Regions from separate parts of the Homo sapiens genome. Here region 1 is linked to region 2. The links come from fine-mapping of genetic effects on gene expression. A gene starts in region 2. The other region holds a variant in brackets. All regions are shown on one strand. Distances are from middle to middle. Region 1 holds the start of ICAM2 (intercellular adhesion molecule 2). Region 2 holds the start of PRR29 (proline rich 29).

Region 1 (8,000 bases), 21 kb before region 2:
CCAAAGGTGGAAGCAACACAGGTGTCCCTCAATATATGAATGGATGAACAGAATGCAGCACACACGCACAATAAAATATTACTCAGCCTTCAAAAGGAAGGCAGTTCTGGCCAGGCACAGTGGCTCACTCCTGTAATCCCAGCACTTTGGAAGGCCGAGGCAGGCAGATCACTTGAGGTCAAGAGTTCAAGACCAGCCTGGCCAATATGGTGAAACCCCGTCTCTACTAAAAATACAAAAATTAGGTGGACATGGTGGCAGATGCCTGTAATCCCATCTACTCAGGAGGTTGAGGCAGGAGAATCCCTTGAACCTGGGAGGCAGAGGTTGCAGTGAGCTGAGATCACACCATCACTGTCCTCCAGCCTGGGCGATAGAGCAAGACTCTGTCTCAAAAAGAAAGGAAAAAAAAAGGATAAAAAAAAGAAAGAGCCAGAAGGTGAGGTACCATGATGCCAACCTTGGACCAATCATTTGACCAGGAAGGTGGAGCTGAGTAGGAAGATGGAAGCTTCCCAAAAAACTTGTCTAAAGTAGAAAAAGAAGGGGTTATCTTTAAAAAAGGGTGAGTCCAAACATGGCTCCTGGAGAAATTGTCCCAAATGGGACATCCACCCCCATTTGTGTCTATGACAGATGCCACCAAAACATTAAAGTCACGTGGGCCCTTCAAAGCTCTGGGCCCTGCTGCCTCCTTCCCACCATAGTCATTTTATATTGGCTCTGTTTTGCCAGCAGTATGACAAGGAGATTCCAAAAAGAACTGAGCTGAAGAAATTGATGCACACAAGCACCAAGAGAAATTGCGCCAGAGCAATGTGTGGCCTTGACTGTCCTCCTGGCCTCTGAATGGTCTAATTTGTGACTTTGCTAAGCCAGAAGTTTCAATGTGCTGTGAGGCTGGCCCGTGGGAGCAAGATCCTCTGCTCGTGGGTGAGCCTAGCTGGCTGCCCGCCACCCACCTCTGCACCCAGTGTTCATACTTTCTGCTTGTTTGTACAAAGTCACTCTTCTAGAGTAATTGTTGTAAAATTGCTAGGCAAGGTGGCAGGTCTGATAAGATTTGATGAAGTGATAGGTCTTAGTCACTAATAAGAGGCTTTTTTGGAATGGTGTGTCACAGCCAAGGAAGCCTCAGCTCTGTGATCTTCGCCTGCCTCACTTGGGGGACCAGAAGGTAGCTTGTCCTGGAACTGCCTCATTCACAGAAGGCCCCAGTGAGTACAGAAACTGCACATCAAAGGGAGGAGTAAGGAAAACAGGATGGCAAATCTTCAAAAATTAAACAAAATTACTTTTTTTTTTTTTTGTAGCGATGGGGTCTCACTTTGTCACCCAGGCTGGTCTTGAAGTCCTAGACTCAAGCAATCCTCCCACCTCAGCCTCCCAAAGTGCCGGATTTACAAGTGTGAGCCACCAAGCCCAGTCAGAATTACCACTAAAAAAAAAAAAGAAAAAAGGTTAAGATGGTAGATTTTGTTGTGTATATTTTACCATTATGATCCAGCATTTCCACTTCTGGGTACATACCCCAGAGAACTGAAAGCAGAGTCTTGAGCAGGTATTTGTACAACCCTGTTTGTAGCAGCACTATTCACAATAGCCAAAGGTGGAAGCAACACAGGTGTCCATCAGTATATGAATGCATGAACAGAATGCGGCACACACGCACAATAGGATATTGCTCAGCCTTCAAAAGGAAGGCAGTTCTGGCCAAGCGTGGTGGTTCATGCCTGTAATACCAGCACTTTGGGAGGCTGAGGTGGGCGGATCATTTGAGGTCAGGAGTTCGAGACCAGCCTGGCCGACATGATGAAACCCCATCTCTACTAAAAATACAAAAATTAGCCAGTCGGCACGTGCCTGTAATCCCAGCTACTCAAGAGGCTGAGGCAAGGCCAGGCACGGTGGCTCATGCCTGTAATCCCAACACTTTGGGAGGCCAAGGCGGGCGGATTGCCTGAGCTCAAGAGTTTGAGACCAGCCTAGGCAACATGGTGAAACCCCATCTCTGCTAAAATACAAAAGAAATTAACCAGGCGTGGTGGCGTGCACCTGTAGTCCCAGCTACTCAGGAGGCTGAGGCAGGAGAATTGCTTGAACTCGGGAGGCGGAGGTTGCAGTGAGCCGAGATCACACCACTGCACTCCAGCACTCCAGCCTGGGCGACAGAGTGAGGCTCCATCTCTACAAAACAAACAAACAAACAAACAACAACAACAACAACAAAAACACTGAGGCAAGAGAATCGTTTGAACCTGGGAGGCAGAGGTTACAGTGAGCCAAGATCACACCACTGCACTCCAGCCTGGGCAACAGAGCGAAACTCCATCTCAAAAAAAAAAAAAGAAAGAAAAGAGAAAGAGAGAGCTCCAGAGATGGATGGTGGTGATGGTTGCAGAACAATGTGAATGTACTTAGTGCCCCAAACTGTACACTTAAACATAATTAAAATGGGCCTAGCACGGTGGCTCATTCCCAGCATTTGGGAGGCTGAGGTGGGAGGATTGCTTGAGCTCAAGAGTTTGAGACCAGGCTGGGCAACATAAGCAACACTCTGTCTCTACAAAAACTACAGAAATTAGCCAAGCCTGGTGGCTGCACACTTGTAGTCCCAGTCACTTGGGAAGTTGAGGAGGGAGGGTCACTTGAGCTCAGGGGTCAGAGGTTGCCACGAACTGTGATTGTGCCACTGCACTCCAGCCTAGGTGACAAAAGCAAGACTCTGTCTTAAAAACAACACAACAAAAAATTGGCTGGACGCAGTGGCTCTTGCCTGTAATCCTAGCACTTTAGGAGGCCGAGGAAGGCAGTTCACTTGAGGTCAGGAGTTCGAGACCAGCCTGGCCAACATGGTGAAACCCTGTCTCTACTAAAAATACAAAAATTAGCCAGGCGTGGTGGCAGGTGCCTGTGGTCCCGGTTACTCTGCGGGCTGAGGCACAAGAATCACGTGAACTCGGGAGGCAGAGGTTGCAGTGAGCCGAGATCACACCACTGCACTCCAGCCTGGGTGACTGAGACTCAGTCTAAAAAAAAAAAAAAAATTGAAATGGTAAATTCTGTTGTGTACGTTTTACCACAATTAAAAAAAAAAAAAGCGGAATGGGAGTGGAGCTAAATGAGGCTAGTTTAGGGTGGGAACCGGGGCACAGGAAGCACGTCACTTCTGGTGGGGAGTGGGGGGAGGGAGAAGACTGAATAAGCCGTGAACTGGGCAGCTGTGACACGCGCACCTTGTCACCTTGTCACCAATTTCCTGCCCGGGATCCCAGAGCTACCCTTCTTGGAGCCCACAGGGGTAAGGTTGAGCTTCTCACTTTCCCTCCAATGAAGC[G/A]TGGCAGCATGGGAAGGATTTTGGCAGTGTCGAGGTCTGAGTTTTAGTCCGTTCCCCTCTCTGGGTCTCAGTTTCTCGCTGGTAAGTGCAGGGGTTGGGGAATCCCCAGCGCTCCTGTGGCTCGACATTCTGCACTCTGTGAAGCTCCTGCCCTGCCCTGCTGGGTCTCTGAGCTCACGCACTTGCCCTGGCGCTCCTTTCCTGATTTGTCTCCCCTCTCTCCTTCCTCTGCTCTGCCATCTCGGTGGCCGATGTAGAAATGTGGGGCTGCCTCCTTATTTAGGGGCCCACGTGGGCTGTGATCTGGACCATCTGAGCTGATGCAGAGGGGAAGGGACAGTCCCTGTTCTCCCCGGCAGGCGTGGTGGGTTCATAATGAATCTCAGTCACTCACTTCCTACCTGCCTCGGTTCGAGGGGGTCTTTCCTAACCCATGGCTCACATTCCCATGAAGCCTCTTCTTTCTAGGCACGTAGAAAGGCCCTTTTTCCCTTTTATTATTTTTGTAAAATTTACTAGGTAACGCATAAAAAGCTTATGTAACATACATATACATCATACTGCACAGTAATATACCAAACACACCTGAAGCTGCCACTCAGCACAAGGATGGAGTATCACCAAACTGCAAACACCACTTATCTGCTTTTTTTTTTTTTTTTTTTTTTTGAGACAGAGTTTTCATTCTTGTCGCCCAGGCTGGAGTGCAGTGGCACAATCTTGGCTCACCACAACCTTCGCCTGCTGGGTTCAAGCGATTCTCTTGTCTCAGCCTCCCAAGTAGCTGGGACTACAGGTGCGCATGCCACCATGCCCAGCTAATTTTTGTGTTTTTGGTAGCGACAGGGTTTCACTATGTTGGCCAGGAGAGTCTCGATCTCTTGACCTCATGATCCGCCCACCTCGGCCTCCCAAAATGCTGGGATTACAGGCGTGAGCCACCACACCTGGCCACCACTTGTCCACTTTTATGCTACTTGCCTCCCACCCACAGGTAGCCACCCTCTGGAATTTTGTGTTTATTGTTCTCTTATTTTTAAGTGCTTTATTACATATGCATCTCTATTTATTTATTTATTTATTTATTTACTGAGATGGGGTCACACTATATTTCCCAGGCTGGAGTGCAGTGGCTATTCACAGGCATGATCATAGCACACTACAACCTCGAACTCCTGGGATCCAGTGATCTTCCCACCTCAGCCTCCTGATTAGTTGGGACTACAGTCTTGAACTGCTGCACCTGGCTATGCCTATTTATTTTTATTTTATGAAACAGTTATATAGCGTTACTGTGTGCTAGGCACTGTTCTAAATGCTTTAAAATATTTACTTATTTTATTTGTTTAATCTGCACAAAAACCCTATGAGGAAGATACTATTATTGATTCCTTTTTGCAGATGAGGAAATTGAGGCACAGAAAGATTAAGTGATTTGCTCAAGGTCACACAGATAGTGAGAAGTAAGGCCGGGAGCAGTGGCTCATGCCTGTAATCCCAGCACTTTGGGAGGCCAAGGCAGGAGGATCATGAGGTCAAGAGATAGAGACGGTCCTGGCCAACAAGATGAAACCCCATCTCTACTAAAAATACAAAAATTAGCTGGGTGTGGTGGCGTACGCCTGTAGTTTCAGCTATTCGGGAGACTGAGGCAGGAGAATAGCTCGAACCCGGGAGGTGGAGGTTGCAGTAAGCCAAGATCGCGCCACTGCACTCCAGCCTGGGCGACACAACGAGACCCCGTCTCAAAAAAAAAAAAAAAAAAAAAAAAAAGAGAAGTAAACACAAAGACATGTCTGGTTCTTAGTGTGACAGCGTTTCTAGGGCATACATCTAAGAATGGAACTGTGAGTTACAGGGTATAAGAATATTCCGTTTACAAGATAATGCCTAATTATCTCTGAGAGCACCAATATACACTCTCATCAGCAGTTAGAAGGGTGCCTATTAACCTACGGCCTCTCCAACAATTGGTCTTGTCATATTTCTTAACTTTTGCCAACCTAATACATATAAAATAGTATCGGTCCCATTGTAATTTTAATTTTAATTTCCCTGGCTACTCGAGCTAAATAATCTTTTCACTTGTTTAGACATGTTTCCTTTTCTTTGAAATGTTTCTTTGTGTCTTTTTTTTTTTTTTTTTTTTTTTTGAGATAGAGTCTCACTCTGTCACCCAGGCTGGAATGCAGTGTCGCGATCTCAGCTCACTGCAAGCTCCGCCTCCTAGGTTCACGCCATTCTCCTGCCTCAGCCTCCCGAGTAGCTGGGACTACAGGTGCCCGCCACCATGCCTGGCTAATTTTTTTGTATTTTCAGTAGCGATGGGGTTTCACCATGTTGGCCAGGATGGTCTCGATCTTCTGACCGCGTGATCAGCCCGCCTCGGCCTCCCAAAGTGCTGGCGTCACAGCCGCACCCGACCTGTTTCTTTGTATCTTAGTCAAAGATACCAATTGTTGATTTTATGATTGACAATTTCGAGGTCTTGCCCCAAGGATATGGAAATACTCTCCTACATTTTCTTATAAAGAGTTTCTTTCACATATAAATCCTTAATCTAAATGGAATTGATTTCTATATTTGGTGTGAGATAGGGATACATTTTCCCCTTTTTTTCTCTATATGGTTAATCAATTGATCCTGTGTCATTTAACAGGCTCTTCTCTTACCCAGTGATCTTCTATGTCATCTTTGTCATGCATCAAAGTTTCAAACAAGCATAGGTGTATTTCTGGGCTCTTTATTCTGTTTCATCAGTTAATTTGCCTATACCTACGCTAACACCATATTTTACAGAAAGTCTTAATATCTAGCAGAGCAAATCCCTCACCTTATTCATTTCCTTTAGGGGCGTCTTGGTTCTTTTGTTCTTCCATATAAACCTTAAAATCAGCTTTCAGTTTCCATGAAAAACCCTACTGGGGTTAATTGGAATTGCACTGACCCTATAGATCAGTTACAGAATAATTTACATCTTTATAATATTGAATTTCCTATCCATGAACATGTGTTATCTCTCCATTTATTTAGATTGTCTTTAATATTTTTCAATAAAGTATTATAATTTTCTTACTATAGGTCTTATAGTTCTAGGTTTTGTTAGTTTTCTTGCTCTACTTTTTTGACTGTTATAATTGATGTATTTTTTAAATTATGTTTTTGTATGTTACTGATACACACAAGAACAACCAATTTTTGAATATTGATCTTTTAGCTAGTTGCCTTGCTAAAATCTCTTATTACTTTGAGTCACTTGCCTGATGATTCTTTTGGATTTTCTACCTGGGTAGTCACGCCATATACAAATACCGATGGTTTTGATCGCCTTTCCTTCCTTCCTTCCTTTCCTTTTACTGCAATGTGTAAGACCTTTGGTACAATATTAAACAGAGGCAGAAATCATAGGCATCTTTGTCTCTTCCTGATTTTAAAGGAAATTCTCCTAAGATTTACTCATTAAAAACAACATAGAAGTTTTATGTAAGTTTTCTTTATCAGGTTAAGGACATTTGCTTCTAATTTGCTAAGAGCTTGTATCATAAAAGGGTGTTGAATGTTGTCAATTTTTTTAATCTGTTGATATTATCGTATGTTTTTTCTTTTTAAATCTGTTAATGTAAGTTTTAGTTTGGTCTCCTTTTGCTCTAAAGCAGAATCCTTTGTTCCAAAGCAGAGGCTGGAGCAAGGACTTAGATTCAGATAGGTTATTTGAGAGGTGATTCCAGGAAGCAGGGGGTGAAGGAGCAGGGAAAACAGACAGGAAGGAAGGAAAAGCCCATTTAAAGGAGGGTGACTGATGTTGCAGCTGTAGGCGACGGAAGCTTATTCTGCTGAGACCTCTGATAAAACTACAGGATGTCTCTCAGAATTGCCCACTGGCAAGAAGGAGGCTGGAAAGTATATCCACTGGCTCCTGTTCCCCAACTGGGTAAGGATCGCATTCTAGGGACCTTAACTCTCCCACACTTCTGGGAATCACTAGCTGGCAAGTAAATTGTTCCTAAAGCATTGAAGAAGACCCTGAGACGAAAAGCAAAAAGAAGCATAGTATAAGTTTGGGGGTAGGTGGAGGGGCACTGGCAGCTTAAAAGGGAGTCTAGGCTTGCACAAAATCATCCACTGTAGGGACAGCTGAAATCAGCAGAGGGCAGAAGTGATATGACACAGAGCACCAAAGTCTACTATTACCAACATAATAAATAATGTTTATAGACATTTCTTCGTTGTTAAACCATCCTTGCAAACCTGAGATAAACCCAACTAGAATGTGATGCCTTTTGGTTTTTACACTGCCGGATTTGATTTACCAGTATTTTTCTTATAACTGTTGCATTTATAGTCATGAGTGAAACTGGCCTCTAATATTGCTTTCTCTTCCTGTACTTGTCTTGTTTAGATATTAAGGTTACACTGGCCTCATGGAAAGAGTTAATGTTTTCATTTTTTCCATTCTCAGAGAGAGTTTTTATAAAATTAGAATTACTAACCAGGCACAGTGCTGTATGCCTATAGTCCCAGTTACTCAAGAGACTAAGGCAGGAAGATCTCTTGAGCCCAAGAGTTTGAGACTAGCCTGGGCAATACAGCAAAACTCCATTTCTAAAAAAAATAATAATAATAATTTTTTTTAAAGAGTTACCCTTACTTGAACTTCTGCAAA
Region 2 (8,268 bases):
AGGGTTGAGGTCCAGCCCTGGCTGAAGGACTGTGACAGGCAGCAGAGACTTGGGACATTGCCTTTTCTAGCCCGAATACAAACACCTGGACTTAGCCCTGTGCCCACAGTGTCTCCTCCTGGGATAACAATGGCCAGGGAGGGGAGCCACCATGGGGGACCCCTCTCCCTAGATGCCTCCCTCCCCACCCTCTCCTTCACAGGGGCCTCCCAGCCCATGCAACAGGCCCCCATCTGGCCCGAGTAGCTCATTGCTACTGAGGGAGGGTGGGGGAAACACACCCTGGCCCAGGGGGCAGAGGACACACTGTTCCCACCTGGCCCCAGGAGACCTCAGGCCACTCCTGGCCACAGCAGGACAAAGCTCTGACCTCTCCTTTCTGCCAACAGAGCTGCTTCCTGGGATGAGGGGTGGGGGGCCCAGCGAACTGACTCTGCTCAGGGGCGCTGCCCAGCAAAGTCTCTCCCCGACCACTCTGGGCCCCTCCAGCCACCTCAAAGGGGCCTTCAAAGCTGTGGAAAGCAGAAGGAATCCCCCCCTCCCCTCTTGCTCCATTACTAGGCTGGAAGGAGACCTCATCATCCCAGAGAGAGGGGTGAGGGAGAGAGGGTGGGGGCTCTGTTCCCAGGCCTCCCCCTGCTCCAGGCAGGAAGCAGTGGGGCAGAGGCGGGCTGACGTGGCTTCAAGGGCCTGGGTGGTGCTCTAGGGAGCTCTTACACAACAGCACAGATCCGGCCCGTCCAGGAACTCATTGGCGTGGGGCAGGGACTGATTTCCCCAGGAGAAGAGGGCCTGGCTGAGGTTGAGGGAGTGAGAAGGACTGCCAGCCATGGGCACCGGGGAGTCGACAAGAGAGGTGCAGGAGGCGGCTCCGGGGCTGTATCCAGAGCAGGAAGCTGGTGCAGTTCCCAGGGCCGGGGTCTGTCCTCATAGGAGGCTCTCGGCATCATAGTAGTCTGGGGAAACAAGAACCTCATCTTGACTCCCTCCTGTCTCAGTGGACCCCAAAGAGGTAAAGGGAAGGGGACAGGCCAGTTGCCTGCAGCAGTGATGTTAGGAAACCCCCAAACCCCACCAGAGGGCACAGGGCCCTCCTGGCCTCCTGATTCACTCCCAGGCCTGGGCCCCGCTGCCCACCACCCCAGCCCTACCTGAAGCCGGGGGTACATCAGCACCCACAGTCCCTGTGGCACTGGGGGGTGGGGGTGGGGGCACAGCTCTCCTGAGATGGGGGAAAGAAAAAGACCCCCATCAGAGGCCCAGGGGTGGCCTCTGGAGTTTCACCCACAAGTTATCTCCACCGACCACCAGCCCCTGCACAGCTCTTCTGCAACTTCCAGCCCAGAGCAGAACCCTGGCAGCACCCAGCCTCACTTACACCTCCCTTTCCCTGGAGGCAGGACAGTGCTGAATCCTGGGCACGTCCTGCAAGTAGGGCTGACAAGCAGGGGTGGGGAAGAAGGGGGCTGGCCAGGGCAGCAGGGCACCCGGGGAGGGCATCAAATAGGGCAAGTAGTGGTGGTGAAACACCAAAGGCCCTTTCTCCCGCACGTCCATCTCCTCCTCCTCCTCCTCAGGCTCTTCCTGTGGAACCTCCAGGTAGACCTGGGGATTGTGCAAAACAGGGAGGGGAAATGAGAATCTACCATCAGGCTCTCCCCACCGCCACTCCTCCATTCCCCTAAGTTATTTCCTCCAGATAGGCTTTGTAAGAATGGCTTGTGGCCAGGCATGGTGGCTCACGCCTGTAATCCCAGCACTGTGGGAGGCCGAGGCGGGCGGATCACAAGGTCAGGAGATTGAGACCATCCTGGCTAACACGGTGAAACCCCGTCTCTACTAAAAATACCAAAAAAAAAAAAAAAAAAATTAGCTGGGCATGGTGGTGGGCGCCTGTAGTCCCAGCTACTCAGGAGGCTGAGGCAGGAGAATGGCGTGAACCCGGGAGGCGGAGCTTGCAGTGAGCAGAGATCGAGCTACTGCACTCCAGCCTGGGCGGCAGAGCGAGACTCCATCTCAAAAGAAAAAAAAGGAAAAAAAAAAAAAGAATGGCTTGTGTAGGCGGGGCGCGGTGGCTCATGCCTGTAATCCCGGCACTTTGGGAGGCTGAGGCGGACGGATCACAAGGTCAGGAGATCGAGACCATCCTGGCTAACATAGTGAAACCCCGTCTCTACTAAAAACACAAAAAAGTAGCCGGGTGTGGTGGCAGGCGCCTGTGGTCCCAGCTACTCGGGAGGCTGGGGCAGGAGAGTTGTTTGAACCCAGGAGGTGGAAGTTGCAGTGTGCCGAGATTGCATCACTATACTCCAGCCTAGGTGACAGAGAGAGACTCCGTCTCAAAAAAAAGAAAAAGAAAAGAAAAGAAAAAAAGAATGGGTTGTGTTTATTGAGCGTTTACTACATGCGGACAACAAATTGTGGAGACATTTACTCCTGTAGCTCAAGGACGTTGAGCAACTTGGCCACCCAGTTGATTCCAGGTGTGACCCCCAGAGCTGGGGCCAGGAGTCCACTGAGCTGTCCCCGGCCTCACCCCCGGCCCCTGGACCCACCTATGTGTCATCACTGAGGACCCAGGGGTGAGGGGTGGCAGTAGCTCCTCAGGGTCTCCTTCTGTCTGGATTCCTTGAACCCCTCTCCGCCTCCTCCGAGCTGAACAACATTCTCTCTCCACCCAGTCCCTGCTTCTCCTGACCTCAGGATGCCCACTATTGGCTGAGTAAGGCTCAGCCTTAGAGCTATATGCACATGCATGCACACACACGCTTGCACACACCCCCACTTGCACACACTTGCTTGCACGCACACACTTGCTTGCACGCACACACTTGCCTTCACAACCCGCTCGCACACACGTGCACGCACACCCTTGCACACGCACGTGAACACACACTTGCACACACATATGCATGTACACAGCCTTGCACACACACACGCATGCACACAGACACCCACTTGCACACACATACACACACACACTCTTGCACACACACACTGCCGCACACGGTTTCCCCCATTCTGTCTCCTGACTCTGCCCCTGCCAGCCTGGATGGGGGACACACCCTTCGCCTCCTCCAAGGGTCAAAATCCTACCTGGCTTTCAAGGGCTGGTTCTAAGATCCTCTGCTCCTCCAAGGAGCCTGTCCCCATCCCCCAACCCTATGTGCACTTGTGCTTTGTACCTCTCCATGTGCCATCACAGCCAACCTGGCTTTGTATCCCTAACCATTCATTTATTCATTCACTCGTTCAACAAATATCAGCTGAGCCCCTACACGGTGTCAGGCACCAGGCCAGACGCTCATGATGCATGGGGCAGGGTTACCAGGGTGCCTACCTTCCTGGAGCCTTAAGTCCAGTGGGGGAGGCACTACAGGGAAACCTCCTTGAAAACAAGACCTCGGTGGTCTGGACTTTGGGGGGTCTCTTCCCCGCCCCAACCTTTCATGGAGGCTGAAACATGACAGATGCCAAACAGCCCCAGCCAGAGAGACGGGCTGGCTTCCTGCTCCTCTGTCTCCCAGTTCTTTTCCCCCCTGAACAGGAACCCCAGGTGGATCCGCATCCCTGGACCCACAGGTGAGCGACCCCGGCGGCCCACCCACACGCACCTGAGGGCAGGGCGAGGCAGGCCGGGGCTGCAGCGCTCCAGCCACCAGGCGACTCAGCAGCAGCTGGTGCATCTGCGCGTTCTGCAGCATCATCAGTTCCAGCAGGTCTAGGAAGCGGGGTTCAGCAAGCCCACGCCGGGCCTCCGAGTCCCCCTCCCCCTGACACCCCTGTCCCGGGGGTGAAGAATGGGTTGGCGGGTTGTGCTGCGGGGACTCCCAGAGGATGTGCGAGGCAGAAGAGGGTGAGTGGTGGTGATGGTGGGGGTGGGGTGGGGGGACCCGGGAGTCTCACCTTCCTTCACGCGGCCTGGCTGCGGGGGCGCAGGTGGGACGGCCCACGAGAGGGGCTGCAGGAAGGTGACCCAGGGCTGGGGGTGTGCGCGGAGTCAGCCAGGTGGGGTGGGGGGAATGGATGGGGACACGTCGCGAGCCCCAACCCCCCCGGCCAGTGGCCTCCCTAACCCCGCAGGGGCCAGGTTCTCTCCTCCCCGCCCCGCGGCCTCCCTGCTCCCTGCCACGCCTCTTCCTCTCGGTTTGGGGCTGTCTCTCCTCGTCCCCCACCCCTCCAGGATCTGGCCCCTCCAGGGACAGCTCCCCACTCTGCCGTCTCCCAAGCTAAGGCAGGATCTGCTCCCGGGCTCAGCCCTCACCGTCGGGACTGCGCTCTGCGGTGGGGAGCGACCCCAGCTTCCGCCCGCCCCAGAGGCCATGGCTGGCGCCGGTTGCCTTGGCGACGCCGAGGACGCCAAGGTCTCTTCCCACGCATGCGCGGAGCCCGCCCGTGCTCCTGGGTCTTCCATCTCCCTGCTCCCTCCTGTCTCCTCCTCCGCGGACTTGGGGTCCCCAGGAGCCCTCCCCCGCCACCAGGAGGCCAGTCTCCTCCCCGGCATGTCCACCTCCCGCCGCGCTGCTCGGGGCTCCCCTCCCCTCCCCTTGCTGGTTCCCAGAACTGGGCCTGGGTTAGTGCGGGGAAGGGGGGTGTGTTTGTTGAGTGAATAAGCGAGTGACTGGGGAGGCTTGGTTTCGGGGTCCCAGAGCCCGATTGACTCAGCTGAAAAGTTCAGGAGAAACAGAGACTTTTGCAGGAGCAGGCTGGGGGCTAGGGCAGACGAGTGAGGAGGACAAAGGGTCTGTTCCCTGTCACTCTGACAGAGAGAGGGGCTTCCTGCCAGGAAAGAGTGGTTTCTGGAGCAGACCAAGGAAGGAAACACCGCCCGAATTCACGGAAGAGGCTGAGGACTCTGGCTGGAAACACGTGGCCGGCTTCTCGCCTCTCTCCTTGCGGCTATTTGCCCTGTTTCCTGGCCAAGGTGAGCCACTGCTCCTCAGACGAGGAAAATCGTGGTGACTTCAGCACCCGCGTCCCCAGTACTGTCTCCCGTACTGGAAAAGTTACCAAAGCACGCGTTCTTTTGACAGGAAGTTAGCAAGGTCTTCCTTGCTTAAGAACAGGTGAAGGGGGAGATCTATTTCTGCAGCTGTGACCATCCTAAGATAGGCCCCCGGCAGCAGTCAAGGAAAATCCAGACAGGAAGCTGGGCTTAGCACCCCGAGTAGCCCTTCCCCCACTCTCCATGTCAGCTCCCCTTCCTGCCAGTCCTGGAGTAAGAACCAGAAAGACCATTCCCACCTCCTCCTTTGCTCCGTAGTACCTGTCTCTAGGGGAGCAGGCTTGTGGGCATTACTTTACTGTCCCCATGGGTCTTATGGCTTCAACAGCCATTAACAAGCTGAGATCCAGGCACTGGGGTCACAGCCCCCCAGTGAGTAGAACACAGAGATGCCTCTCTCCATCTCCATTCTCATTCCAGGTAGAAAGAGAACAAGCCATTTTGCTCATCATCAACAAACCTTGACCAAGGAAGTGTCTGCGTGTGCAATGTGCCATCTGAACCCTGGAGGCATAAGCAGTATGGTCACTTGTCCCAGCATTGTTGGGAAGTGAAAATGTATCCATGGAAAGAGAGCAGAAAGATAAGACTACGCCCCGGGGATAATGAAAAAGAGAGGACTTGACCGCTGAGGGATGGAGTTCCAAGGAAGTCAGTCCTTGATGGGGCCAAGCAGCAGGGGAAGACGGGCGCTATCAGGCTGGGGACAGAGCCCAAGCCAAGACCCAGGTGTATGAATGGACAGGACCTGAGATGACCCGGTGGGTCAAACTGTCTGACTGTAGAAGAGGAGCTGGGCAGAGAGCAGAGGTCCAGGGACAGGCCAAGGTTTGGAATGCCAAGGTTTGGAATTTAGGCTTGGCCCTGTGGGTAATGGAGAGCTATCAGTGGGTTTCAAGCAAAAGGGAGATACCAAGTGCTGTGGCCAGCCATGTTTCAGGAAGATTGTTCTTGTCCACCTTTGTTTATGTCAACCACATTTAGAAGTAACAAATGTCTGATAGGGGGTCAGGTGCGGTGGCTTGTGCCTATAGTGCCAGCTACTCAGGAGGCTGAGGCAGGAGGATCGCTCAAGCCCAGGGATTCAAGGATGCTGTGAGCTACGATCACGTCACTGCACTCCAGCCTGGGAAACAGGGTGAGACCCAGTTTCTAAAACAAACGAACAAACAAATGTCTGATGGGGATGCATCCTCCCAATAGAATACTATTCAACCATGGATAATGTGGGAATAGAATATCTCTGTTGATGTGAAAAGTTGTCCAAGACAGTTGAGTCAAAAATATCAGTAAGCATAGTAAGATCTTATTTTTGTTTTAAAAATCATATGCATAAGTCCAGGCACGGTGGCTCACGCCTGTAATCCCAGCAGTTTGGGAGGCCAAGGCAGGCAGATCACTTGAGGTCAGGAGTTCGGGACCAGCCTGGCCAACATGGTGAAACCCTGTCTCTACTAAAAATACAAAAATTAGCCGGGAGTGGTGGCGGGTGCCTGCAATCCCAGACACTCAGGAGGCTGAGGCAGGAGAATCGCTTGAACCTGGGAGGTGGAGGTTGCAGTGAGCCGAGATCATGCCACTGCACTTCAGCCTGGGCAACAGAGACTCCATCTAAAAAAAAAAAAAATTCATATGCATATACATGTGTGTATGTACATGTGTGTGTGTGTGAATACACATACACACACACACACAGATCCAACTGTGGAGCAGCTGTCAGAGTTGGCCGACCCGCAGCCTCCCCTAGAGTCTTCTGCAGAGGGTTCCTGCCCTCACCTACAGCCCCTCCACCTGAGGACACCTGGCCACAGGTAAGACAGGCCAGAAGGTGGCACAGGAGCAGCCCACAAGCAATAATGGATGGGAGTTGATAGCTAAACTCGCAGCCTCCTGGTCTCAGTGCGACAACTCTGAGGTGTCTCCCACAGAGCCTCTCAGTGATGCCTGTGGGCTTGTGCCCAGGTGGCCCACAGTGACCTGCTCAGAAACACACACTTTACTGCCTTTTCTCCTCTCCCTGTCCCTTCTCCACTCTCTCGTAGTGCTCATTTGGATCTCCTTCCAAAGAAACGACTGCTCCCCAAGCCTGTGTCAGGGTCTGCTTTTGGGGGATCCCAACGAAGACATCAGCCTCCTACTCGCTCCACATCTGCCTCCAGGCTACTGAAAACTCCTGGAAAAGGGACTTAAGTAGCTCTATGATACATCTGCATTCAGAGATGTGAAATACTGAAATAGACATTGAAGAAAATGAGTTTGGGTGTACAATGGTCAATAGATTCAACTGAAGCAAGGCTGGAGGCAGGGGGCCCAGCAAAGAGGCTGCCACACTTGTCCCTCTAAGGAAGCCTGCAGTGGGCTAGAGGTGGCCGTAGAAAACAGTCAGGAGGAGGTGATCATTCCAATCCCTCAGAGGTAAAAGGGCATGTTAACCGCTTGTGTTTTGAAAAACAAGGCTGAGATCAAAACTATCTGACTTATGGTATTCCATTCGATGTATTTGTCAAAAGAAACGGAAGCATTTGCCATGAAGAAAGGAAAGCCACACACTTATCTGCCTGAGCTATTTTGCTCATAGAAGATCTCACATCAGCGCAGCAGAATAGGAGATGACTTACTTTCCTGCTATTTGACTTGCCTGCTATTATTTTCTTTGAGACACTGAACACTCCACCTATTTCTTTTTTATTTTCTTCTCAATAGGAACTCTTGTTGGCCTCTTTGGATTATTTTGTTTTTCAGATTTTTTTTTTTTTTTTTTTTTTAGTGATCCAAGACAATATGTGCTAAAAGTCCTCCCCATTGCCTTGGTAAATCTATTTCTGGGAATAAGCTAAACATAGGAGAAGATTTATACTAAAAAATGTTCATCATAGTGTTATTTTTAAAGGGTTAAAAATTAAACATTTGGCAGGACATGGTGGCTCACGCCTGTAATCGCAGCACTCTGGGAGGCCGTGGCAGGTGGGTCATTTGAGGTCAGGAGTTTGAGACCAGCCTGGCCAACATGATGAAACCCTGTCTCTACTAAAAATACAAAAATTAGCCAGGCTTGGTGGCGGGCACTTGTAATCCCAGCTACTCGGGAGTCTAAGGCAGGAGAATTGCTTGAACCCAGGAGGTGGAGGTTGCACTGAGCTGAGATGGTGCCATTGCACTGGGCGACACAGTGAGACTCTGTCTCGAAAAAAAAAGAAAAAGGAAAAATTGAACATTACCCAATGTCTAATAATAGGGGGATGGTTGAGTGAATTAAGGCAGTT

The links.
Region 1: its variant is fine-mapped to the expression of PRR29 in whole blood (TOPMed, PIP above 0.99).

Annotation. Positions count from the first base shown.
Region 1 is chr17:64,015,824-64,023,823 of GRCh38, reverse strand. It overlaps ICAM2 (intercellular adhesion molecule 2), which reads left to right and starts at 3,191. Exons shown (of 5, transcript NM_001099789.2): 1 at 3,191-3,301. RefSeq lists enhancers at 2,752-2,801, 3,022-3,111, 2,857-3,357, 3,452-3,571. The variant G/A (reference allele first, on the strand shown) is at 3,338.
Region 2 is chr17:63,994,421-64,002,688 of GRCh38, reverse strand. It overlaps PRR29 (proline rich 29), which reads right to left and starts at 4,338. Exons shown (of 6, transcript NM_001164257.2): 1 at 4,265-4,338; 2 at 3,907-3,982; 3 at 3,615-3,721; 4 at 1,379-1,605; 5 at 1,152-1,222; 6 at 1-956. The coding sequence starts at 4,324. The coding sequence ends at 928. It overlaps ICAM2 (intercellular adhesion molecule 2), which reads left to right. Exons shown (of 5, transcript NM_001099789.2): 5 at 1-94. It overlaps PRR29-AS1 (PRR29 antisense RNA 1), which reads left to right and starts at 2,790. Exons shown (of 3, transcript NR_126169.1): 1 at 2,790-4,364; 2 at 4,767-4,924; 3 at 5,426-6,618. RefSeq lists an enhancer at 3,175-4,152 and a silencer at 4,406-4,455.